5 separate regions of the Homo sapiens genome follow, and all the other regions are linked to region 5. Evidence: fine-mapped QTL for protein levels in blood plasma. A gene starts in region 5. Each other region holds a variant in brackets. All regions are shown on one strand. Distances are from middle to middle.

Region 1 (5,090 bases), 54 kb after region 5:
TAATAGAGACAGGGTCTCGCTATGTTGCCCGGGCTAATTTCAAACTCCTGGGCTCAAGCAATCCTCCTGCCTCGGCCCCCCAAAGTGTTGGAATTACAGGCATGAGCCACTGCGCCCGGCCACCTGCTTTAGAAACTCACTGTGAAAATGGGTTGGAATATGACTCCAGGATATCATTAGAAGAAAAAAATCAGTTAAAAAATAAATAAAAGAAAAATAAAAAGAAAACTAAGAAAATGGATTGGAGGCAGGAAAATGAAGGTAGAGAGCTTATAAGGAGCTTGTTCTAATACTGTAGGGGAAAGATGATGACCTTGAGACTAAGAAGGTCACAGTGGAGAAGGGGAAGAGGGGTGTGGGGTTCAGAGGTGTTTAGGAGGTAGAATCCGCCTCAGGCAAACTTGACTCCGTTCCTAATGATAGGAATAACAAAGTGTTCATTTTTATATATTATTGTTTTTGGTTTGGTGCTAGCATTCATTTGTTGCTTCAGTGGCTAGGGAGAATGCAATGAAAATATTTCGGGTGGGGCGGTGTGGTAAGACCCCTGGCAGCCTGACTGTGAGACTTTGGGCAAGTTACATAACCTCTTTGAGCTTCACTTTCTCACTTGTAAAGTGGGGTTTCATCCCACTCCATCACCTTCAAGAATGTTCAAAATCCAGAGATTCTAGGATTCTGTTTCCCAGGACTTGGACGACTCCGTGTCTCCATAGCTCCACCAGGTGGCGCTGCCGGGCCTCGTGACCACTTGGAAAAAGCAGTGTCACCAGAACGCTGCGGAGACCTGCCAGCAGGGGTCACACTGAGGTTGCCTCGTGGTGTCCCTGCCTCTGCAGGTGACCTATGAAATTCCTGGCAGGCCCAGCACAGTGGCTCACGCCTGTAATCCCAGCACTTTGGGTGGCCGAGGCGGGTGGATCACCTGAGGTCAGGAGTTCGAGACCAGCCTGGCCAACATGGTGAAACCCCGTCTCTACTAAAAATACAAAACTTAGCTGGCCATGGTGGCAGGCACCTGTAATCCCAGCTACTCGGGAGGCTGAGACAGAAAAATTGATTGAACCCGGGAGGCAGATGTTGCAGTGAGCCGAGATTGCGTCATTGCATTCTAGCCTGGGCAACAAGAGTGAAACCTCGTCTCAAAAAACAAAAAAAAAAAAAAGAAAAAAAGAAAGAATCCAGGCAGCTCAGTAACAATAGAGGTAATGGTGATATTAGTAAGATAATAATAATAATTATGACAATAAGAGCAGCTGCCACCTACAGAGCAGTCCCTTTGTGCCGGGCCCTGTGCTAGACTTTCACGAGTAATCTCGTTTGAGCCTCACAGTACTTTGAGGTAGGTACTATGATTATCCCCATTTTTCAGATGGGAAAACTGAGGCTAAGAGTGGTTAAGCCAGTTGTCTGAGGTCTCATGGCCCGGAAGGGGATGAGGGGCCTGATTTGGGGTCTGTGTCTGGCTCCTCCCCTCACTGTACTGCATTCCTTTGGAGCTGCCTTGACGATCCTCAGCGAAGGACAGACGGGCTGGGGCAGGGCATGGTATGAGGAGCCCAGGCAGGAACCCTGACCCAGAGTCCCAGCCCTGCCTTCTAGTGGCTCTGTGAGTTGGGCAAACCATTTAACTCCAGTCCGAGCCCAAGTGATTAAAAGTTCATCCCATGGCCTAACCACAACCTACCACACTGCGGTTTCCTGGCTTGCCTGAGCTGGGGGGTGGGGGTGCTGCACAGCATCTGACTCCAGCTTTGCTCCTGCAGATCTGGAGAATCGAAGGTTCCAACAAGGTGCCCGTGGACCCTGCCACATATGGACAGTTCTATGGAGGCGACAGCTACATCATTCTGTACAACTAC[C/T]GCCATGGTGGCCGCCAGGGGCAGATAATCTATAACTGGTGAGGTTCTGGGGCCATTGGTGTGTGTCGTGGGGGTACTGGCTGGGCCCTGAGCAGGGCTGAAGACAAACTGAGGGTGTGAGGGCCTGAGGTGGGACCACCACTCCCTGCTGGGAGAGGCTTTTGTCCACAGGGCAACACCATTTGCTTATTTCTCCAAACAACTTTGAAACTCTTCTTACCAAATGATTATACATCTATTGTAGGATATAGTGAATGTGGAGAAACAAACAGAACATCTCCCACAAATCCATGACAAGTACTAGGCACACTAGGGTTTATCCTCCCACACATATTTTTCAAGCCAAAATTTTTTTAAATTTATATTTGTTTATTTATTTATTTATTTATTTATTTTGAGACAGAGTTTTTCTCTTGTTGCCTAGGCTGGAGTGCAGTGGTGCGGTCTCGCTCACTGCAACCTCTGCCTCCCAAGTTCAAGCAATTCTCCTGCCTCAGCCTCTCTAGTAGCTGGGATTACAGGCACCCACCACCATGCCTGGCTAATTTTTTGTATTTTTAGTAAAGACGGGGTTTCACTATGTTGACCAGGCTGGTCTCGAACTCCTGACCTCAGATGATCCATCTGCCTCAGCCTCCCAAAGTGCTGGGGTTACAGGAGTGAGCCACCACACCCAGCCCCAAAATTATTTTAAAACAGAGAATACATTTACATGGTTCAAAAATCAAAACAGAATATAAAGGTATTTATTGAGAAATCTTATTCCCACCCCTGTCCCTCTCTACCCCATTCTCCAGACCCCACCCCTTCTTGGGTAACTGCTTTACTCTCTTGCATATCCTTCCAGTAACTCTTCGTGAAAAAAAATACATATGCAAATAATTTATAGCCTGGTCCCTCCCTTCCTTACACAAAAGGTAGCATACTTTGTATATTGCCCTGCACCTTGCTTTTCTGACTCCATTCTTCCTAGAGATCAATAATGTCAGTACATAGAGACAGAGAGCTTTCTCATTCTTTTTTACAGTTGCATAATAGTCCTTTGGGTGGCTGTACTATAGTTTATTTAACAAATTCCTTGATGATGCATACTTGGGTTGATTCCAGTCTTTCTCTATTACAAACATTGCTGTGATTAGTAACCTTAAACAAACATCACTTTGAACATGCAGAGACATGCCTCTAGAGTAAGTTCCCAGAAGTCAGATTGCTGGGTCAAAGAGTAACTGCACTTGTCATTTTGGTAGATAGCCCCCAATTTCCCTCGATAGTGTTCGTAGCATTTTACATTCCCACCAAGCAACCTGTGAGAGTCCCTGGTTCCCTATAGTCACACTCGTGGATTGTGTGGTCAAACTTTTGGGCGTTTGCCAATCTTATGGTTTATAAAATGGTGTCTCAGTGTATTTTTAACTTGTATTTCTCTTACTATACAGTCTAAAACTTTTTGTCTGATTATTGACTGTTGGATTTTTTTTTTTTTTTGAGACAGGGTCTTGCTCTGTTGGCCAGGCTGTAGTGCAGTGGTACGATCTCTGCTCACCACAACCTCTGCCCCCCGGGGCTCAAGCAATTATCGTGCCTCAGCCTCCTGAGTAGCTGGGACTACTTGCCACTACTCACCACCACACCCGGCTACTTTTTATACTTTAGTATGGATGGGGCTTTGCCATGTTGCCCAGGCTGGTCTCGAACTCCTCTAAGCGATCTGCCTGCCCCAGCCTCCCAAAGTGTTGGGATTATAGGCATGAGCCACCACGCCAAGCTGGATTCCTTCTTTTTTTAAACTTATTTTGAAATAATATTAGACACTTGCTGAAAAGTTGCAAAAATAGTACAGACAGTTCTCATATATCCATTACCCAATGGAATATTCACCTATGTTCACATCTTACATAACCCTTACATAACCATAGCACAATTAACAAAGCCAGGAAGTGAACATTGACACAATACTACTTACTAATCTATAGGCTTTACCTAAATTTCCTCAGTTTTCCCATTACCGTTTTTTTTTTTTTTTTTTAGACAGAGTCTTGCTCTGTCGCCAGGCTGGAGTGCAGTGGCATGATCTCGGCTCACTGCAACCTCTGCCTCCCAGGTTCAAGCAATTCTCCTGCCTCAGCCTCCTGAGTATCTGGGACTACAGGTGTGCGCCAACACACCCAACTAATTTTTGTATTTTTAGTAGAGACGGAGTTTCACCATGTTGGGCAGGCTGGTTTCGAACTCCTGACCTCAACTGATCTGCCTGCCTTGGCCTCCCAAAGTGCTGGGATGACAGGCATGAGCCATCGTGCCCGGCCCCCACTACTGTTCTTTTCCTGATCTAGGATCTAACCCAGGATCCCACATGGCATTTACTCATCATGTCTCCAAAGTCTCTGAATCTATGGCAGTTGCCCGGTCTTTCCTTTTTTTCATGCCCTTAACACTTTTAAAGGGTACTAGTCAGTTATTTTGTAGAATGTCTCTCAATTTGACAACCCCAGACATTTAAAAACAGCTTAATTTTTTTTTTGACTAGATAACACATTCACCTGGTACAAAATGTGTGAGAAGACTGTTTTAAAAATTAGCTGCATCAGCGCATTAATAGGTCAGATTTTGTTTGCTTATACGACGACATATGTTGGTTATGGAAAACTTAGACAATATGCAAAGAGGTGGGATAGAAAGGCAAAATCCCCCTAAATCTTCCCTCTAAGAGCAATCACCATGGACCTTTTTGGTGAACATCTGTGCAGACCTCTCTGCACGTGTTCATGGGAGGCTTAATCACTGACATCTTTTCCCACAAATAGGCTCTCGTAACACTTGCTATTCTGCGACCTGCTTTTCCGCCCAGAGAAATGTCCTGGCCACTTTTCTGCATCTCAGATTTGAGTCTCAGAGCATCTTCTCTGTGGCTGTTCAGCATGGGATGACCCAGCCAGTCTCCTGTGGGACACATTTAGCATAAGGAAATCCATGCGTTGCACTAAGATCTCTGTAAGCGGGCAAGATGCTAGGCTGAGAGTGGAAGTGTTGGTGTGGTTCCTGGCTCTCGTTGTTCTGAAAGAGTCCCCTTCCCTCTCTATCTGTTTCATTACTGGTAACAGGGAGATGTGTAGGTTTCTCAGACTCAGGGCAAGGGAGAGGCTCAGGGCTCTGTGTGCACCCTGATGCTGAATCTCACTTCCCCTTCCAGGCAGGGTGCCCAGTCTACCCAGGATGAGGTCGCTGCAT
Region 2 (5,093 bases), 730 kb before region 5:
CACCTTTGCTCGTGCTATTCCTTCTACCTAAAATGCCCTTCCCCACCCTACCCCCGCCTCACCCCCACCTCTACCTGACAAACACCCATTCATCCTGCCAAAGCTAATTAAGCTCCCCTCCAGGAAGCTTTGCTACCTGCACCCCTAGTGCCCCACTCAGGAACAGCTGAACACATCCCTCTCTGGGCTGTGTTATCAAATAACACAATATAATTACCAAATTATCCCATATCAACTGCCCCTTGGCCATGGCAAGTAATTCCATCTCTCTGAGCCTGTGCCTCCTCAGCTACAAAATAGGGGTGACTTGTGATTGTGGACCAGAGACAAGCTATTTAAAACAATCTTGCACTGCTCCTGGAATATGGTGGAACTCAACAAATGACAGTTGTTATAATTATTACTTTTTTTTTTTAACATGTAACAATTAGCATTTTGTCAGAAGACCCTCAGAATAGCCTTTCTGCAGCTAAACCAAGAAAGCAACTTAGTTTGGGAGAAAGAAGAAAGATTTTGCAGTCAGACAGAGCTGCCCTAGTGAAGCACAGCTTCCTGGGATGAAGGTAAAGAGGGAGACAAAGGTAACTAAAGCACCTAGCAATGCACTAGGAGACAAGGTGCCAGGCAGCACCAGTGCAATGCCCCAGAAAACCTGGAAAGAGGTGTAAGATTGCCCTCTAGGGGCTCAACTTTGAAATCGTCACATAATCAATGGGAGAGGTAGTCACCGAACTATATACACTTAAAATTGAAGCACTGTGTTGTATGTAATTTATACACCAATAAAACTGAATTTTTTTTTTTTTTTAGTTACCTTAAAGCAAGTTCTACATAGAGAAAAGAAAAAGTAGGCAGGCCTGGTGGGGACTCCTGTGGCCAAGCTGGAGCACCAAGCCCATCTAAGGGGAGGGGTAGCCTCAATCCAGCAAGATGATACCCAGGGCTGCCAATCTCCTAGGTTTTAAACAGAAGGTGGAAATCCAGACTTCTGCATGAAATTCAATTTTTTACATACTGGCAACTAATTCACACTTTAAAAAATACTGTAAGCCAAACAGATCATATCTGTTGGCATATTTGATCTGCAGGACTTCCCAGTATTAACTGCCTTAAAGACACAGAGCAGCTCAAAGGCCAGATTGAAGACAATAAAGTAGCTAAAGCATGCACCTTTAAAAAGGGTGGTGGGAGCCCAGAAAGATATTGGCAGAGTCCATCCACGTGAGGGGTCCCTGGGCCCTAAAGATTCAATACCTTGCCCTGCCCAACAGTGAGTCAATCTGTGTCGCAGATCTGGATCCGTCTCACCAGGGCAAAACCAAGGACTCTGGCTCCAGTTTTCTGCTAACCATCTGACCTTGACTTAGCTTCCTAGGCAGGCCTGCCTTCAGGGAGGGAACACGCTGATCCTACACACCCAGGAAGGTTTCACCACAAAGAGGGCCACACCCTGAGCAAAAATCCAGAGCTGGCATCTGACTGCTGCACTGATCTCTGGGAGTGCGCCTGGGACACAGCTATCCCTGAGAGACAGCTGCATTCATAGGACTGACATGTTGGGTTTTGGTGCCTCTCCAGTCAGACCTATGGGAAATCCCAGGAAGATGCCGCCTTTAGCAAAGCTCTGATCCGACATCCATGGAGACTCTACCACCTAGAACACAGTAAGTACTTGATACACGTTAACCCTTCCCAAAGTCCCCCTTCCAAAAAAAGATGAGCAATTAAGCTTCTGTGGCACATGCTAACAGGACCACTCTCCTCTAGGATCACCTTAAAATGTGCCAGGCTCTGTACCTTTACGTGCTGTTCTCTCTGCTAGGCAAAGCGTCCTCACCCAACTCGCAGGACTCCTTGTCTGACAAGCCCTCCCCATTCCACGCCCAGGCAGAGCTGATCACACCTTGCTTTTGTCACAGCACGGAACCCTGGGCTCACCTCTATCACGGCATCAATCACGACATATATTTTTTTTAACATCTATCCCCTCCCACACTGAGAGCACCATAGAAGCAGGACAACGTTCAGCCCTGCATTCCCAGCACGCATTCCCAAGGCCACACTCAGTAGTTGGTTAAGGAATGAATCTATACTTCCTCTAATTCAAGCTTTAATTCATACACCCAACCACATCCTAGACTCTACTCACTGAAGCTCACAGGCCCTCAAACCCAACATGTGCCAACTGAAGGTATCATCTTCCCTCTCCCTCCACCCAAAAACATTTCCTCTTTTTCCTTTTCCCCCAACAAAATTCAATAAATTGCACCACCCCACAGCTGCTCATGTTCAAAACCTGGGCAAGGGCCAGGCACAGTGGCTCATGTCTGTAATCCCAGCACTTTGAGAGGCCGGCAAATCACCTGAGGTCAGGTGTTCAAGACCAGCCTGGCCAACATGGTGAAACGCTGTCTCCACTAAAAATACAAAAATTAGCCAGGCTTTTTTGGTGGCGGGCAACTGTAATCCCAGCTGCTCAGGAGGCTGAGGTAAGAGAATCACCTGAACCTGGGAAGCTGAGGTTGCAGTAAGCCAAGATCACGCCACTGCACTCTAGCCTGGAGGACAGAGTTAAGACTCCATCTAAAAAAAAAAAAAAAAAAAAAAAAAATGCCTGGGCAAGGGTGTGTCACTGTAGCTTTTCCCCTTATCCCCCAGATCCAGTCAGTCACCAAGCCCTTCAAGCCCATCACATCCACTCTACCTTCTAGCCTGTTCTCCTCCATTCCCAGCTCTGTCACCTCCACTTTGGTCACCATCAGCTCTTTCCTGGATTTCTGCATCAGCCTGAGAACCAGTCTTCTACCCAGCCCCAGTGTCAATCCATTCCCCAAGGGCAGGCAGAAAGACCTTTCTAAATTTAAATCTGATCTTGTCATTCCCTGAAGCCCCACCTTTAACTCTTCAGTGGCTTCTTGTATGCCTTTAGGATAAAACTCAAATTCTTCAATAAGGTCCATGTCACCTCCCCAGCTTCCCTCTCCTCACCTCTTCCCCACTCCTTTCCAGAACACAGCACTCAGGCCAGGCTATGCACCCTCCTGTACCTGCATCCTGCCATGTTCCTTCTTGCCTCTGGACTTCCACTCGCACTGTTCCTTTACTTTCCTTTCTCTGTCCAAGTAATTCTTCCTCTTCCTAGTACTTCTCCCGGGAAGCTTTTCCTAATCCCTCTAAACTGAATTAGATATATGTTAACCCAGCATTGATCCTACTTAGCCCTTATCATCCTGCTCCTCCCTCCACCCCTCCCACCCTGCTGGATGATAAGCTTCAACTCAAACAATGAGATTCCTGGGGAGAGGAACCCAGGCTGTATCACTCCTTCTTACATTCTCATCACCACTGTGCTGAGTAGAAGATGCTCAGGTGATATTTTTTGAATAAAAGGCATAAAGATCCAATAGAACCAATTAACTGACTGCTCAGCATCTGTCAGGACCCTCAGAGGGCCTTTTCTATTCATTCTGTCCCAGGACCTCTTTTCAAACCTATCCCAAACCCTCTCCTTCCCCTTCACAGGCGCCAGGAATTCTGCCAGTCTTTTCTTCTTTGGTGGCTGCTCACATACTCTATTCCCTGGGTCCCCTACTCCCAGTTTAACTGCTCCAGACCTGTAGCTCCCCCAGGAAGACAAGCCCATAAGCCTTCTAAGGGCTTCACTGCTGATGGGTTGGGAGAGATACAAGGGAACACGGAAATGATTCTGTGGAATTCTCACAGTCTAGTGGCTCCATGGGTGATGCCTGGAAAGGCCAGTACTCTGGGGGGAGGCTCAGTAGGAGGGCACTTCCCAGGGAAGTTTCTCTTCCTAGCCATGAAGTCAAGAAAAACACAAGGTGTCAAATGGGTAAACTGAGATGATATATATTCATTCCACTGAGGTCCATGGGGAACCCAGTTTCCTCACTCACCTTGAAATTATTAATCATAAAACTTTCATTTTCCAGATCAAAGCTAAGAAAAGATTGCAGAGCACCAAATAAATGCTCGCACCTCCAAATGCTGAAGCTAGGGCACTTACATGGAGGCATGGGCTCTCCCTCTGGGTCTATTTACTTTTCTTTTACAGATAATCCTATCCCAAAGATTAGGATTTGCTCATCTGATTTTCCAAGCAGCAGACTCCAATCTCCACAGGTGGTACCAAGGCAGAAGTAAAAGCAGACAAGAGTTGAGGAACCCGGCAGTTAGGCCAAGCACCTAAACAACACAGTAGTGCTAGTCAGTGCAGAGGGCAGGCACCAAATGACCAAGAAAAAGGAGCCAGTCAGTATCCTCCGAAACAGATCATTTGCTTTAGAACAATTTCTATCAAATTCCAAACAAGCTCGGCTCTTCAACAGATAGGTCACAGGTTAGCCAGCAGTTGGACTTATATTTAGTTAACCTTCCATTTAGTGACTGCCAAATAAGGCAAGAGTATCATAATGTAAGGTTTATGGTAAGGAATAAACTCAACTTTCTCCTGACAAGTTTTTACCAAAAATTTCGTTGCAAAATATGATGGGCACTAAAGACTGCCTAAAGGACATATCAACTACCCAATAAACTAGAAGGCACCCATTTTATCGTGGATCATCAAAGAGCTCTG[T/C]ATTTGGTCTACACTGTTTTATTTTTGACACCTTGCCCTGTACTCATTTGGGCCTTGGGCTGCATTAAAAGATATAATGGAATATAAGTCACACGAAATTCACTGTTATTTCTTGTGGGGGCAGTCACTCACTGTTCACTTTGGGAAGAACCACAAGAGAAATTTCCTCTGATAGTGCCAAGTAAAACTGGGCTTCTCCTGAGTTACTAGCTTGTTTTACCTCATTTGCAATGTAAATCTTGTCTCTACCCTTTTTCCTTTGGCTCCCAGGAAGCTCATGGGCAAAATCAAATGCTAACTTTAGTATCTGAGTGGAACTTTTTAGCATGAATGTCTATCAGTAGACAATCTCTGACCTCATATGACTATGCTATTCCTTTTCTCTTCCTCCTGATTTTATCCCTAGTTTTCTATCTAACTGTGTTGGACTTGTTCCCATTAGTCACTCAAGTCCTATGGGAAACATGGGGAGAAGGGAGGGATAAAAGAGAATAAAAGG
Region 3 (5,104 bases), 35 kb before region 5:
CAGTGGGTTAATGTGATAGAAAAAACAATAGATTTAGATTCTTAAAGACCCTCGCCCACCCTCTGTGACCTAGGATAAGTCCTACTCCCACTCTCGTGAACTTCATTTTATTCACACGTAAATCAGGGTTCATAATCTCTTCACTGCAAACTTCACAGCATCACTCAATGGATTTCATGAGCACCTACTACGTGCAGGGTAATCACATTCCTAACGCTAAAACCAAAGGGTAAGCATCGCTATACTCCTCCTTTAGTACATGATCAATTGGCAGTCCAGGGCCAACGAGAAGCAAAGCTGGGATTCCATCAGGCACTCTCTGACCTCCATGTTTGTCCTTTTCCATAGGTCACACTGTTTAGAAGGAGAAAGAAGAGCTCGCTGTGAAAAACGCTCCACAATGCTGCAGAGCCTTGTGAAGGTGGAAGAGTACTCTCATCAGCAAACGGCATTCCTTCCATGGAAAATGTCATTGGGAGGAAAGCAGGTGACTTTGGATTTCTTTTTCTTCTTTTCTATCCTTGTAAAGGATTTCCTTCTTCTCTATCTTTGATAACTCGTGAAAGCCTTAGGTTAATATTATCTACCAAGGACTCTACACTTCAAATAAGAACTGGGTGAAGGTAGCGGAGACCGAGCCAGCCCAGAACCAACTGCCTCAACTGAAGAAACTGACCAGAAAAGCCCTTTGAAGCTGTAATTAACTTCAGACATGATTTTGAAGAAGAAGAAGAAAAAACAAAAAACAAAATAACAGTAATGTCAGTGGGTATCAGAACTCCAGCCAATTCAACTGAGAGCTGGGAAGAGGGAAGAGAAAGTGCTGCAAATTTTCAACAGAGTGACCACAGAGTCCTACAGTATGAGCTCTCGTGGTGATGTAGCAGGCAGGCTTCTATTGTTTTAAAGATGGGGAATCATGAAAAAGAGAGAGAGAAGGGAAAGATGGGAAAAAATTTTAATCTTAAAAATATAAAAGCAGGCCAGGTGCAGTAGCTCACACCTGTAATCCCAGCACTTTGGGGTGCCAAAGCGGTCTCAGGAGTTTGAGACCAGCCTGGCCTACATGGTGAAACCCCGTGTCTACTAAAAATATAAAAATTAGCCAGTCATGGTGGCGGGTGCCTGTAAATCCAGCTACTTGGGAATCTGAGGCAGGAGAATTGCCTGAACCCAGGAGGCGGAGGTTGAAGTGAACTGAGATTATGCCACTGCACTCCAGCCTGGGTGACAGAGCGAGACTCTGTCTCAAATATATATATGTATATAAAAGCATTTGCAGCTATTCCAGATTAATATGGGAGGAAGTGATGGGAGAGACCAGAAGATTTGATAATCCCAAACCTAACTTGTTATAATGTGGTACAATGTAGACTGGTTTTCCTTGAGGTCAGGGACTGGACCTGCTTCATGACTGTCCAGTGCTGAGCACAGGGTGTGGCATCTGGTGGGATCTTAGGAAACATTTATGTAATGAGGAAATCTAGGAAATGTGATTGAAAATCTTCTTGACACCTTAGGGCCCTCACTATGATTGCAAAAATTATTAGTCTGTATAGATTAAAGCCAGGCTTCTGATTTATCTGGTGGGGCTGGTTAGTCAGTTATCCCTTTTTCACAGCCTCAGGCACTCTTGGCAGAGTTACATAAGTAAAAAGCCATGTGTGTATGCATGATAGGGATGAACGTATCAGTTAAGGGGCAGACTCCAATTTTGCAACCTTTTTAAAAAATATATTTTATTGTGATTAGAACACGTAACATGAGGACTACCCATTTAACAAATTTTCAAGTGTACGATATGGTATCATCGACTATAGATGTAATATTGTACAGCAGATCTATGGAGCTTATTCAATCTTGCTATCCTGAGCCAAGAAAATAAAAAGTATTTGTGTTTGTGAAATTGATTGGAAGAACTCTGCCAAAGGAAAGGCAACAGTTAGGTCTCAGGCAGGCCGGAAACCAAAACTCCATGGATCATAGAAGTAGAGACTCATGGGTACTTCCTTTCAAGAACCTCCGCTTTCCTTGATGTTTGCTTTGTGGCTGAGGAGACAAAGTGGCTCGATGGCACTCTCAGCTTACAATTCAGAGGAACCATTGTTGAGTCCCCTGATAGAAGTTTTCATCCCTTGGGCTTTGTGGTGGATTAAAGACGGCTACAAATTCCCTATCACTTCTCTGTTGAGAGGTGAAATGTGTTTCCTCAGCCCTTGAATACTGGGTTGGCCTGAGACTGCTTAACCAACAATATGTGGTAGAAGTGATGCTCTCTGTCAGCTCTGAGGTAGGCCTTTAATAAGACTAACAACCTCCTCTTCCTCCCTCTTGGAGCCCAGAGCTGCCACATAAGAAGTCCAGGCAAGCCAGGCGCGGTGGCTCATGCCTGTAATCCCAATACTTAGGGAGACTGAGGCAGGTGGATCACAAGGTCAGGAGTTCAAGACCAGCCTGATTAACATGGTGAAACCCCGTCTCTACTAAAAATACAAAAAATTAGTCGGGCGTGGTAGCATGCACCTGTAATCCCAGCTATTCAGGAGGCTGAGGCAGGAGAATCTCTTGAACCCAGGAGGTGGAGGTTGCAGTGAGCTGAGATCACGCCACTGCACTCTAGCCTGGGTGACAGAGCGAGACTCCATCTAAATAAATAAATAAATAAATAAATATCCAGGCTATTCTGCCAGGCACACAGAATAAGACCACTGAGGCACAGGAGGTCAAATAAAGATGCCATCTTTGATGTCCAGTCCAGTTAAACCTTCAGATGGTTCCAACCCCACCTAGCAACTGGCTGCAACCTCGTAAGAGACTCCAAGCAAGAACCACTGAGCTGAGCCCAGCCAACTCATAGAACCATGAGAGATAACAATATTTTACTATTTAAAGCCACAAAGTTTTGGAGTGGTTTGTTGTACAGCAACAGATAGCCAAAAGAGACC[C/G]TAAAACCTATAGCTAGCAAGGCCTAGAGTCTCAGGACAGGAAGTCTAACATTTGGAGAGCAGATGTTAGGTGTCACCTTGAGCAATTCCACCCCTTCGTTCCTGAAGCAATTGTTTCGATTGGAATTCAGTTTGCCTTCACTGAGCAACAGAAAACCCCAGACAATAATGCCTTGAACAAATCGAAAGTTTCTTTCTCTCACAAAAGTCTGGGTAAGTGATCCAGACTGGAATAGTGCTCTAAGATGTCAGGGACCCTGGTTCTTTATGCTTTTTTTATGCAATGCATGACCTAAGCCTCGTGGGTCAAGATGACACTTCAGGCAATAGGACAGAGGAAGGGATGCAAACACAAAGGGTGCTTTCTCCTGTAGAAGGTTATTTAAAGCCACCACATGTGGCTTCTTCTTGTATTCCATTGGTTAATATGTATCTCACGGCCGTGCCTAGCTGCAAGGGAGACTGGAAAATGGTATCTTGATTTTGGGTGGCCATGCACCCAGCTCTAAATTCTACTACTTCTAGTAAGAAAGGCTATTGGGAGACACTTTGCAGTGCCTGCCTCACTGCTACATCTTGAAAAGTAATAGAGAGACACAGGAAATGGCATCACATATGGGATGCTGACTCACAGCACCGATCCCTTCCGGAGGGGAGCAAGCAGTTATCTCCCCATGGGCACTGTGAGCCTCCACAAGGCCATTCTACTGTGCTATAGGAGCCAGCTGCTCCTGGGTCATGGGTGGGGTCTGTTAGGTGAAGAGTGAATCCCACAGGCCTTAAGTCACTGCCACTTTTGCCATGAAGTGAATTCCTTGATAAGAGGGAGCATCGTGTGACATACGATGACTAGGTAAAAGCTTCTATAAGCCCTCAGGCTGTGGTGCTGGTGGAGGCACGAAGGGCAGGGAAAGCAAATCCAGATAAAAAATAAATGTAGGGTTGGGCATGGTGCCTCATACCTGTAATCCGAGCACTTTGGGAGGCCAAGGCTGGAAGATCGCTTAAGCCCAGGAGTTAAAGTCTGCAGTGAGCTATGATTGCATCACCATACACTAGACTGAGCAACAGTGTGAGACCCCGTCTCTAAACAAATAAATTAAATAGTTAAATAAATAAATGTAGGACATTGCCATGAGAACAATTTGGCTGTTCCAGATGGAGTTAGTTCCCAGCTGAGAAACAGGGAGGTGTGGGGCAGAAGGAAGAGTGTTAGCTTCCTTCCTTCTCCATGAGAGGGAGGCGCAGAGGAAAGGCTGCAGACCAAGATGGTTAGTGGGTAGGAATTCTCCAAGTTCTCTCGCAAGCCCCAGATATCACCATCCTTTCCTAAAGGAAACCTGGCAAAGTCATGCCGTTGGCTGTCACTGAAATTCAGCAACTCCCCGAATCCGAGTTTGGCTTTAGCAATCTCGCACCCATGGCCCCAGTGAACAGTTTCCATCTGGCCAGAGAAAAGTCGTGAGTTTCACTTTGTGCCTTGTGGCAAACATCTCAAGACGTGAGCTTGTCCTTATCCTAAATCAAGATACCTGATGCTTTCAGAAGCAGCCACCCTACTGGTTTCCACATCTTTCATCTCCCTTTTAGGTGGCTGAGAATTTTAGCTTCAGCTTGTCCAAAGTCCCAGATTACCCAAAGAGATTATGTGCTTAGCCACTGTCTTCCAAGGGCTGGTCGTTCCTATTCTGGAAGACAATTAGGATTCTCAGTGCCTCTCTCCCTGTCCAGCTCAAGAATCATGGATCACTTGGAGGAAAAGCTAAGCTCCTGTAATAAAAAGGCAAACTAGAGTAGCCTATTTCCCCTTGAGGTGAGTGGCCCAGAGCAGAAGGGCAGCTTTGGTTCTTTGTCGCTCATTCTTCCCCAGGGCAGTGTTCTCTTCTGCATCGGTGCAGCTGGGTTCTGGCTGGTGGGAAAGAAGACAGTGGAGAAAGCTTGCTGGTTATCTTAGAACCCAGGCCCGGAAATGACACGTGACTCCCACTTCATTCCCCTGGTGAGAATTCAGGCACCTGGCCACCCTAAACACAAGCAAGGCTGGCAAAGACAGTCTAGGGGGACAGCCATGTGCCTGGCTCCTATTATACTTAGGCAAAAAAGTAGAATGGAAAGCCTTTTGGTGAACACCTAGCAGTCTCGGCCACATATTCCAAATA
Region 4 (5,104 bases), 620 kb before region 5:
ATGTCCATGTGTACTCAATGTTTAGATCCCACTTATAAGTGAGAACATGTGGTATTTGGTTTTCTGTTCCTGCATTAACTTGCCGAGGATAATGGCCTCCATCTGTATCCATGTTGCTGCAACAGATATGATTTTGTTCTTTTTTACAGCTGCATAGTATTCCATGGTGTATATGTACCACATTTTCTTTATCCATTCTACAATTTATGGACATCAGGATTAATTCCATGTCTTTGCTATTGTGAATAGCATGCACTTAATCTTGACACTTTATGTCACACTTAAATAAACCTCTTAGAATCTTGGAAATAGAATATTCATTCTAGGTGAGCAAAATGAGACATTCAATGACTAGCCCATGATAGGCCAATCAACCTTGTAAGACAGTGATCCCTCAGGTTTGTTCATTAAAGTAAGATAAAGAAGAGCAGATAGAAAGAAAAAGTCCTAGCCCTCAAAGAAAAATCCATTTTGCTCAACCCCAATATTCCATCATGACCCTACTGAATAGGGCCTCTTTAGCTTATACAATTCTCATAAAAACAAAGAATAGAGGTTGAAATGCCTCAAAAAAAACCCTTCTTTCTTAGTTCTAGTTTGCATCTGCATAAGTTGACCTTAGGTTTTGAGGACAACACACTCAGAGCCACCAACATAGATCAGTGGTTCTGAAACTTTAGCATGCTGATTCTTGGGCCCTATCCCAGACTTTTTTATTCAATAGGTCTGGTGTTGGGCCTAGGAATTTGCATTTCTAAGCAATTTCCAGGTTAAACTGATATTGCTGGTCTGGGGACCATAATTAGAGAACTACTCTACTAAATTAACTGTACTTATTTCACTCTATTTTTTATATCCCTATCCCTGACTGGTAAAGCTACTTACTTTCCACTTCCAGGCATAGTGATGAACCCTGAATTTGGTATCAATTCTAACCTAAGAAGAGGGTACTTAAGGCAATCAACCTCAGCGGTCTGTCAAGTCCCATTTGCTACTGGTTCCTTTGTCCTCAGTCCCCTATATTCCTAATGATTAATTACAACTATTGTCCCTAGTTTCTCAATGCCTGGCTCCTGGTCTCAGTGGCCCTGCCTCTCCACTTTCCACCACAATGACTAGGTCCATGACACTTGCTTTCAGACTTCTCACATATCAAATGCCTGCCTTTTAACTTAAACCCAAGCAAGTCAGATGTTCTGACACCCAAACCACAGACCTAGCTTTAAATATTTCTAATGCCCTAATTCCTGCCTTTTCCTTTCCAATGATTCTGTATGTATACTCTTAACAATTTTTATTGTTGCCTTCTGTTCAGTATTTATTTTCATTGTAGCCCAGGTCTGATTTCTAGATTTATATTTCCATAGGCCAGTACCTAAACTGATGAGTCATACTCACCCACAGCTAGCCTTGCACTTACATTGAGATGCTCACACTGCCATATCTAATTTTGCCTATTCTATTTCAGGGTACAGTGGGAAGAGACTTGGAGCCGGACAGATCTGGGCTCAAATCTAAGTTCTGCCATTTATTAGTTATGCCATGTCGCTAAGTAATTTAGCTGCTAAGAACAAAATGGATGAGTTGTCTGAGAAGTCAGAGAGGTTTTATGTGTAAAACATCAAGAATGGAGGTTTAAAGTGTTCAATGAATGTTAATTTCCTTCTGTTCCTCCTGCTGCCTCTCCTGGATTATGCAGCTTCTTTCGGTGAACATGTTAGTCAAGAAAGCTAATATATTTCTCTGTAAAAATGTTTCCTTCAAATATCCACAATATCTGTTTTAATGGACATTCTATTCAATTGCAGAACCCTTTGAAAATCAATTCAAGGCCAGCAAAAGTAAAACTTAATTAAAGTAATGGTCATGGTATATGTGTTGGAAACTGGCAAAAGAGAAGGAAGAGATTTTGTTATTGACAATATAAGCCATACTTGCATTACTGCTTTTGGCAATGTGAGAAACATGCCTATGTTCCTTCTGTAGTGTATGTAGAAAACCCCAAACTGAAAAACTAAATTGAAAACCCCAAATTGTTGAAACACACAAAATATATCACACCAGAATATTCATTTAATCTACACAAAGCCATAATAATGGAATTTATAATTTTTAAACTAGTCCTATATACTATGTCAAAATAATCATGGCTGAAGCATTTGTGTCCCTTTTTATGGAAAATCTAAAGAAACTTCAAGTCCAAGTCTCCCTCTAGGATTGACAAATTTAGGTATTTTGAGAAGAAATCACATCCAGGGAGGAAAAAAAGCTGAACAGTCCCATATTTATCTCCATCCTCTAGGAAACATATTTCTTGCTATGAAAAAAAAAAAATCTGAGATGGAAAAAGTCATGCTGATTTAATTTTCTTTCAGGGAATAGAGAGGAAGACAAAGCCTTCTCTGTGGGAACAAGAGGCCTTCTATTTTAGCCTAAGTCTACTAACATGAGTCTTAGAAGCTATTCATTTTAAACTGCAGAGAAAAAAGAACATTAAAATAGGCTATGAATTTGATTGTACATTCTAACCACAATGTCATACATCTAAAATGGCAGGTCAACAAAGTAAGTTTATTTCCTTATCCTAATTTCTCTTCTGTACTTAAGGCTAAGAATTACCATAAGGACCAACTTTGCCCTCAAATAAATAATACTGTCTATA[C/T]TCCCTTGAATGACTGCTTCAAATAACAATTTTATTAACTTTCTATTTTGAAATAATATTAGATTTAAAGAGGAGTTGCAAAGATAGTACAGGAAGTTCTAATCTACCATTCATCCAGCTTCCACTAATGTTTCTTTTTTTTTTCTTTTTTTTTTTGAGACAGGATCTAGCTCTGTTGCCCAGACTGGTGCCATCATGGCTCACTATAGCCTTGACCTCCTGGGCTCACGCGATCCTCCTACTTCAGCCTCCCAAGTAGCTGGGACTACATGCATGCACCACCAAGTAGCTGGGACTACAAGCATGCTTGACTAATTGTGTAATCTGTTGTAGAGATGGGGTCTCCTTATGTTGCCCAGGCTAGTCTCAAACTCATGGGCTCAAGCGATCCTCCTGCCTTGGCCTCCCAAAGTGCTGGGATAAGAGGTGTGAGGCACCATGAGGCTCGGCCTGTTTAACTTCGTATGTAATCAGGACATATTTATCAAAAAGGAGAAATTAACAATGGCACAATACTATTAACTACTCAGATTTCCCTAATTTTTCTACCAGTATCCATTTTTTCGGTTCCAGAATCCAATCTAGGATATTGTCTCGCATTTACTCGTCATGTCTCCGCAGCCTCTTCCAATCTGACAGTTTCTCAGTCTTTTCTTGTCTCTTATGACCTTGAAGCTTTTAAGGGAACTTGACAAGTATTTTGTGAAATTTCCCTCAATTTGGGTTTGTCTGATCTCTTGTCACAATTAGAATGAGGTTATGAATTTTGAGGAAGACTATCACAAATGTAATGTATCTTTCTCATCTCATCACATTAGGGATACATAATATTCATGACATATTGCTAGTGATGTTACCTTGATCACACAGAGGATAATTTTTAATGCTAGGAATCTGTTTGTATGATAGCTAAACTTAAAGGATGGCTATCAGGCTTACTGAAAATAAGCAGTGGTTCGGCCAACCAATTAACAAACACTAGGACCCACTGAAGGCAGGATAGTCAGACAGATATTAATTTGAGCCAGTTTCTGCCACTTATTAGTTGTCTGTTTTGGGGCAAATTAAGCCTCAGTTTCTTCATCTGTAAAATAGAATATATCACCTTCAATTAACTGTTATTTTATCCTTACAAGACAGTAAATATAAAGCACTTACCCTGGCACATAGTAAACAGTCGGTAAATGTTAGTGCTGTTCATTCTGGAGTTGATAGTGGTAGTAATAATGTCAGAAGCATTTGTCAAGTTGTGTGGTATTTTTGTCTCAGAAGGAAGTCAAACTACAGACAGGAAAACACTACATGTTCGTAAGGTTTTAAAACACATTAAGTATAGTAAAATGCCCTATAAGAGAGATGTTTATAAAGATTAAATTTGTAGTTCCTTTCTTCTTTAGCAAGAGAAGTGTGCAATTGCTTTGCCATTTGGGTAGAGGTAGGAAAATAACCCTGAAGCAGATCCTCCTGACTGTGAAAAATCATTTAAGTTGGGTTTCCTTTAGTTACATAAGTATAGCATGAACAGGCCCTACTGTCCTGAGATAAGGGTTTAACAAGACTCTTTATATTTTGAGTGACTAAAGAAAGGCGCTTAAGCCCTGGGGAGGGAAGAAAGTTTGAGGTTTGTTAGTGAAAAGATTCTACAAAATGTCCTCAAAAAGTACTCTTGGGACCGGCTTACACAATGAGATGTGGCTGCATATATAAACTGAAGGAGCTGATTGTTAAGATCTAGAACCTAGGAGACCTAATTTAGAGCATCCTTGAAAGAATGTGGCATTAAGGGATTGGGTTCATCCTCCCTTAAAGAATCACTGCTGCCTCTGCAAGGATCTGGACCAGTTAAAGCATCATCACAGTTGTGAGCAAGCATCATCCATCCATTAGGTTGTTCAGGGACCAGGCTTCACCCCAACAATTCCAGGTAGCAGTGAGAAACAGTAGGATTAGTGAACTGATCAGAATCACATTCCTTTTATACCTAGCATCACAGGAGGACTGACCCCTAGAGTTATAGGACAATTAGTTACCTGTTGATAATGTGTTGCATCAAGAGGAGAGAGTACTTGACTTTATGCTATTTAGGCATATGAGGGCCAGAGCAATTAATTGGAAAAATAAAAGAAGTAAAGTTTGTCAATTATATAAGCTTTCAACTTTCCAATATCTATTGTTTGCTACCCTCAAAGGCCTCCTTATAAAGATTAACAGTTTTAAAAACTCTTAAAAGGTAAAGGGCCTTTGGATTTCTTTTCAGTAATGCAGAAAGAATGTGGATATGGGGACACTGCTTGACACTCAGCAGCAAGGCTAATGCAGGAATAAAAATCCCATGGGATACAGTGGGTGGTAGCAATTGCTGGAGCATAGGAAAGCAGATTCAATTCCTGCAGCCTGCAACAAAGGAAGAATGGTAAGCACAGGGAGAGGGTGTGGGCCTGA
Region 5 (5,104 bases):
AGAAGACTTCTAGGCATCCATGAAAGGCAGACTTGATATATCCTGCCAGCTATAAAATACACATGTTGAGTCATAAAGCAAAGCACCAGGAGATTTCTAGAAGTGTTCCTAGAGGAGCACTCCCATGTAAGTATTGGTTATCATCATCACAATCATCATCAATCAATCATCATCATCATTATCTTCATTATCATTTCTAATGATTCCTGGTGATACCCTGTTCCCATGTTCCTCTCCAGCCACCAAATGGAGCAATTACAGGGTTATGGGTAGGCATCTGACCCAGCTTAGAATATGGAACCTTAGATCTAGCTTAGAATGTGAACCCTTTTGCTCTCCTGGCCTCAGTTTCTCCATCTCTAAAGGGAGGAGTTGGAGCAGACATTCTCCAATGTTTCCTCCATCGTGATGTGGTATTCTCCAGTTCTATGGGGACACAGATTCAGAGTTCCACCTCCCTTTGTCTGAGAGCAGTTGCTGGGGCTGGAAATGATATGTTAGATAATTCCAAGGCATGTGTATGCCGGGGCTTGTAATCAAAGATTCCAGAGCCAAATAAGCCTGTGTTTTTGCTTTTCTCCCCAGCAGCCTTGCATTGGGCCCCAGGCAGCCTCTGGAGAAAGCAGAGAGTAGCAGAGATGGTGTGAGCCTCCCTGCGGGGTGGATACCTTGCTTGTATTCTCAGAGAAAGTGGAACTGGGCAGAATTTCCCAAGCCAGGAAAGGTGGCAGAGTGTGACATAAGACATTGAGCAAAGAAGCGAGGGCCAAGGACTCAGGCATAGAAGAGTAGACTGCACAGTATCAGTAGTGTGACCTCCAGAGAGTACTTAACCCTTTCTGTGGGCTTGGCCTGCTCATCTGAAAAATACACATGGTAATGCCTCCCTTAGGAGGCCAGGTAGGGAGGTGAGAATTAAAGTCGGTAATACGTGGGAAGCCCAGAGCATGGCATGAGGCATTCAAGAAATGGTTCTTGTATTTACTGGTGTTGAACAAAGAGAGAATGGCAGGAGGAAGAGCCAGGGTGAGATTCCCTGGGTCCTGTGGCTTCCCTGGCTGCTATTCAATGGAAAAACCAGGGAGTGAGCACTGTGCTCTTGGCTTCTGTGCTACTTAAACAACAGCCTTTTCTGCTCTGATCCCCAGCACCCGGCAATTACTGACTCTAGTACATTTTACCTTGTGTTAAGAGGGAGCTTTACCCTGGCTGAACATGGGGCTGCTGCCAGCACCCAGGCTGGGAATGGACATCTCTGTCATGTGGTGCAGTCTCCTGTGGAGTGTGTGAATCCTTCCAAACCGGAGTCACGCGGCAACTCCAAAAGTCCTGGGAACTCATGTGTGCACCAGGACTGCTGGGAGGCCGTCTTATGCCTTGCTGCATTATAAACGGCTATCGTCTCAAATGCATATGAGATGTTGTTGAAATCAACAAAGTATTACATTTGCTTAAAATTGACCTTGCACTCATCTTTCTACCCAATGTGGATTTCCTCAATCTCCTAAAACAGTATCTGCCATGACACTAATAAGAACATCCCTTCCGTTTATGCAGAAGCCACGGTCCCTGTCATTGTGCTGAGAGTCTTTTTCTCACTGAGTCTTCTCAACCGCCCCATGAAGCGGCAATTCAGGATGCCCATTTGACAAACGAGGAAACGGAGACTTAGACATGTGAGCTCGCTTGCCCAAAGTTACAGGACTAGTCGATGTCTGGGGTTCCAAACCAGGCCTTCTGACTCCGAGGCGCCTGCTTAATGGTCCACTTTAAGGACCAGGGATGCACTTGGCATTTTCGTTACTTCATTCGGAATGAGCTGGGAATCGCTCTTCCTCCTTATTCCCTTCCGTGGGAGGGAATCTCCCCTGCTTTGCATGCAGCCTATGTCACTCTTCGAGGGCTTTGCCTCCTGAAGTCCGTTCTCTCCAGGGCTGAAATCTGCCTCCGCTGGTGCTAGTTGAGCATTGCTCGCTTGCCCGTCCCATCTGAGCTCTTTGGCCCCAGCCCAGCTCAGGAGCTGCCCTGGGTCTCCTCCCCGACCCTAGGCCTCTTCAGATCTCCCCTCCGTGCTCCGGGCCTCAGTTTCCTCCAGGGGAAAGCAGAGGGCTTGGTTTGGTGCCTTCCTGCGAGGTGAAGCGAGGGGTCCCCCTGGACGAAGGCGAGCTTGGAGCCACCCGCCCAGCAGCCGACGGGAGGGCCTGGCGCTCCTCCCCCACCCGCCTGCCCGGCCGCCCCGCCCCGAGGGCGGCTCCCGCCCGCGCCCTGCCCACCCCGGCCGCGCGCACCACAACGCCCCCGCCCCGCCGCCCGGAACCAGCTGAGCGCAGCTGGACCCAGCAGCCGCTGTCTCCAGTGCCGCAGCAGCAGGTAGGGGAGGCGCGCGGCCCCGGCCCCGGGCATCTGGGGGTCCCGGGCTGATTTGAGTCCTTCCTCTCCCTTCCTTCCCGGTCCTATCTCGCCCGCGCCTGGAGCTCGGCCCGGCCGCGGGGGCATCGCTGGAAAAGGGCTTCCTCGCTCACTTTTCCCGTCTTCCAAGGGACCAAAGAGTGTGGATGGGAGTTGGGGGATGGGGAGACGCCGGAGCAGGAGAGGAGAGGGGCCAGGCCTCCACCCCGTGATTCCACTGTGCTGCTAGCACCTGAGCTAATAACCTCGACCCCGCCCCCGGGATGGGGGAACTGGCCCGGGGTCACCCCTGCACTTGGGTTGTCTGACCCGGGCATGCAGGGGACCACCAGCTACGGTCTGGGCGGTGACTCTGCTGGGGAGTCCACTCAGAGGACCCTTGCCTCCTGGACGATACCTGTGCCTGCTCTCCTCTCCAGCTGCTTCCTCTTTCTGGGGACTGTTAGAAAGTTCTTCCTTACACTGTCTGAAATCTTCAGGCGCCTGCTACCTGTAGGTGCTGGCTTCTCCCCGGCCCTGCAGTGTTCCCTTCCCTGACTCACACGGAAGCTTCTTCTGGAGTTGAAGACAGTGATTGGAACCCCTTCTCCCTGAGCCCCCATGTCTTCTGGGGTCCAGCCCCCCAGAACCTAAATAACAGCAACTTCCCTCTGGTCCAGTGCAGGCTGGCTGGTCTGGGCAGTGCCCAGGGGGAAGCCCCAGTCCTTGGAAGGCTGGGGGCTGGGGGTGTGGGTGAGCAGGAGACATTGGCTTTCTTCCTAGCTCCTTGTCTGCCCAGACATCTGTCGCTTTATCCTGTCTTCACACCCTCCTCAGAGCATGGAAGGGAGCTTTAAAACACCCAGAACTCATTCTGGGCTGTCCTGAGGGTAATTGGACTTTGTGGAAGGCGGGGCCTCTGGGGAGGTGCCTTTCGCTTTTGTTTGGCATCTGGGGACTTTTCAAACACTTAATCCTGTGTGTCCTGTTCTCCCAGGACCACATTTCTGACCAGGGCACCAGGACCTCTCACCGCTCTGCCGTTTACAGCGACCATAGCTTGCTAGAATCTTACCCCATCTCCATTTCCTCCATTTCACAGTTGAGAAAAGTCAAGGACCCAGAGAGTTTATGATGGGCTAATTGTCACACAGTGAGGCAGGGTAGGGCTGAGACCCAATTCCGGTCTGCCGTTTGCGGACTCCTTGCTGGGAGGGACTCTAGCCTCCTTCTTGGGTGTTCCGTTTACTAAAGGGACAAGCATTCCCTGTACATACACACTTGGGGGTGCTGGTTGGTGTTTCTTGGGGCTGTTAAGGGGGAGAGGCTTGGAAACAGAGGAGGAAGGATGGGGGTGGGAACGGTCGGCTTTCAGCTCCTTTGAAACTCCATTTTTCTTTCTGGGGCCATGCTATTTATAAATGCCAGGGAAATTGTAAACAGCCAGGGGAGCTTGGGTTGGCACTCGGTGAGTTACACAGCAGCAAAGAAGGTTTCTGTGTGAATCAGGGGAGGAAAGTTTACTCCAGAATTTTCCACAGTCCTTTTATTAGGGACTAACATGAGCCTGGAAACAGGCTGCTCCCAGGAGGGGTGGCTGCAGGGTTTGCCCCGCATGGCATTTCCTTCCTCCCCGCCTCCCTCCTTTCAGCACTTCTCTGGGCCTGTGTTCTGTGCCTTGCCCTGCGAGGGGCCAAAGAGCCTTGGAAGAGGACAGAGCTCTCTGTCCTCAAGATGCTTGCCATCTATACTGTTTGACACTTTTGTGCCATATTAAGAGTGACTTCAGCCTGCAAGAGGAGTGACTAATTTTGTCTAGGTGAGCCAGACCTCAGAATGAATAATCATTTACCAGGAGAAACAGGAGTTGGGGGAAAAGACATTCTGGGAAGCAGGAACCACTAGTGCAAAGGCACTGAGATTTTCTGAGCCATCCATGTGGCTAGAGTGGAGGATGGGAGAAGGGCGGGGTGGTGGGAGGTTGAGAATCTAAATGAAAATGGAACTAGATTATAAGCTAAGGGTTTGGACCTCATCCTGAAGGCAATGAAGAGCTGAGAAAGGGTTTTGACAGAGCAGTGATTTTTAAAAACTCGTTATTCTGAATGGCTGATGTAGGGGATGCATTGAACGAGGCTGATCTGGAGGCAGGAAGGCCCTGAGGAGGCTGTTGCATGATTCAAGTGAAGTAGATTGCAGGTCTGAACTAGAGCAGTGGCCACTGGGATGGGTCAGAGCAGCAGATTCTGGAAGCCCAGCTGAAGGTCTCAGAACCTGCTATAAATTTCATCTAAAAGCAGACAACAGGCTAGACCTACTGGAGAAGGTTGCTAAGGTATTCAGCATTGTAACTTTTTTTTCTTTTTCATGAGTTTTAAAACAAACAAAAATTGTTAAAGAATCCCTCCAAGCCCGCCTCTTTCCCCAGAGGTCGCCACTGTTAACAATGGTGTGTGCACTCCTGCCAAACACGTTGATTGGATGCCTTCACTTTTAGCCATCCAGTGACAGTGGGTCACTTTCCCCTACTCCATGTGAATAGTTTGGGTCATTTGTGATGTGGGTCATAGAGATGATTTCTGCTTGGTCTATGGTACGTTGCTGAGACACTGAGCTCTGGTTTTCTTTAAGAAAACTTTTACATCCTGTGTCTGCGGCCTCTGGGTGTGTATATTTGCTTATCAGAGACCACAGGTGTGAGAGAAGTTAGAAGCAC

Which allele goes with the higher level. Positions count from the first base shown, and alleles are read on the strand shown. Strength reflects both the effect of a copy and how common the allele is.
For the plasma level of the protein whose gene starts at base 2,313 in region 5, allele C in region 1 goes with a lower level than allele T (moderate association).
As copies of C replace T in region 2, the plasma level of the protein whose gene starts at base 2,313 in region 5 goes up (weak association).
As copies of G replace C in region 3, the plasma level of the protein whose gene starts at base 2,313 in region 5 goes down (moderate association).
For the plasma level of the protein whose gene starts at base 2,313 in region 5, allele C in region 4 goes with a higher level than allele T (moderate association).

Evidence for each region. PIP is the posterior inclusion probability: the model's chance that the variant is causal. Protein levels are from antibody-based Olink assays in UK Biobank. Linkage for the fine-mapping came from a reference panel and not from the study's own genotypes, which makes the PIPs less certain.
Region 1: its variant is fine-mapped to the plasma level of the GSN protein (UK Biobank, PIP above 0.99). The variant lies in the coding sequence of GSN. If it changes the protein, the assay may bind it differently, which can mimic a change of level.
Region 2: its variant is fine-mapped to the plasma level of the GSN protein (UK Biobank, PIP 0.92).
Region 3: its variant is fine-mapped to the plasma level of the GSN protein (UK Biobank, PIP above 0.99).
Region 4: its variant is fine-mapped to the plasma level of the GSN protein (UK Biobank, PIP above 0.99).

The regions. Positions count from the first base shown.
Region 1 is chr9:121,319,502-121,324,591 of GRCh38, forward strand. GSN (gelsolin) reads left to right here. Exons shown (of 18, transcript NM_198252.3): 11 at 1,767-1,900; 12 at 5,053-5,090. Among named protein-coding and RNA genes, the nearest start is that of GSN-AS1, 37 kb to the left of the region's middle. The variant C/T (reference allele first, on the strand shown) is at 1,863.
Region 2 is chr9:120,531,213-120,536,305 of GRCh38, forward strand. The region is part of intron 7 of CDK5RAP2 (CDK5 regulatory subunit associated protein 2); the gene reads right to left. Among named protein-coding and RNA genes, the nearest start is that of CDK5RAP2, 46 kb to the right of the region's middle. The variant T/C (reference allele first, on the strand shown) is at 4,595.
Region 3 is chr9:121,230,817-121,235,920 of GRCh38, forward strand. It overlaps a transcript of GSN not described here. Among named protein-coding and RNA genes, the nearest start is that of RAB14, 32 kb to the left of the region's middle. The variant C/G (reference allele first, on the strand shown) is at 2,946.
Region 4 is chr9:120,640,905-120,646,008 of GRCh38, forward strand. All of the region lies in intron 2 of MEGF9 (multiple EGF like domains 9), which reads right to left. Among named protein-coding and RNA genes, the nearest start is that of CDK5RAP2, 63 kb to the left of the region's middle. The variant C/T (reference allele first, on the strand shown) is at 2,663.
Region 5 is chr9:121,265,850-121,270,953 of GRCh38, forward strand. It overlaps GSN (gelsolin), which reads left to right and starts at 2,313. Exons shown (of 18, transcript NM_198252.3): 1 at 2,313-2,370. RefSeq lists a silencer at 2,201-2,500.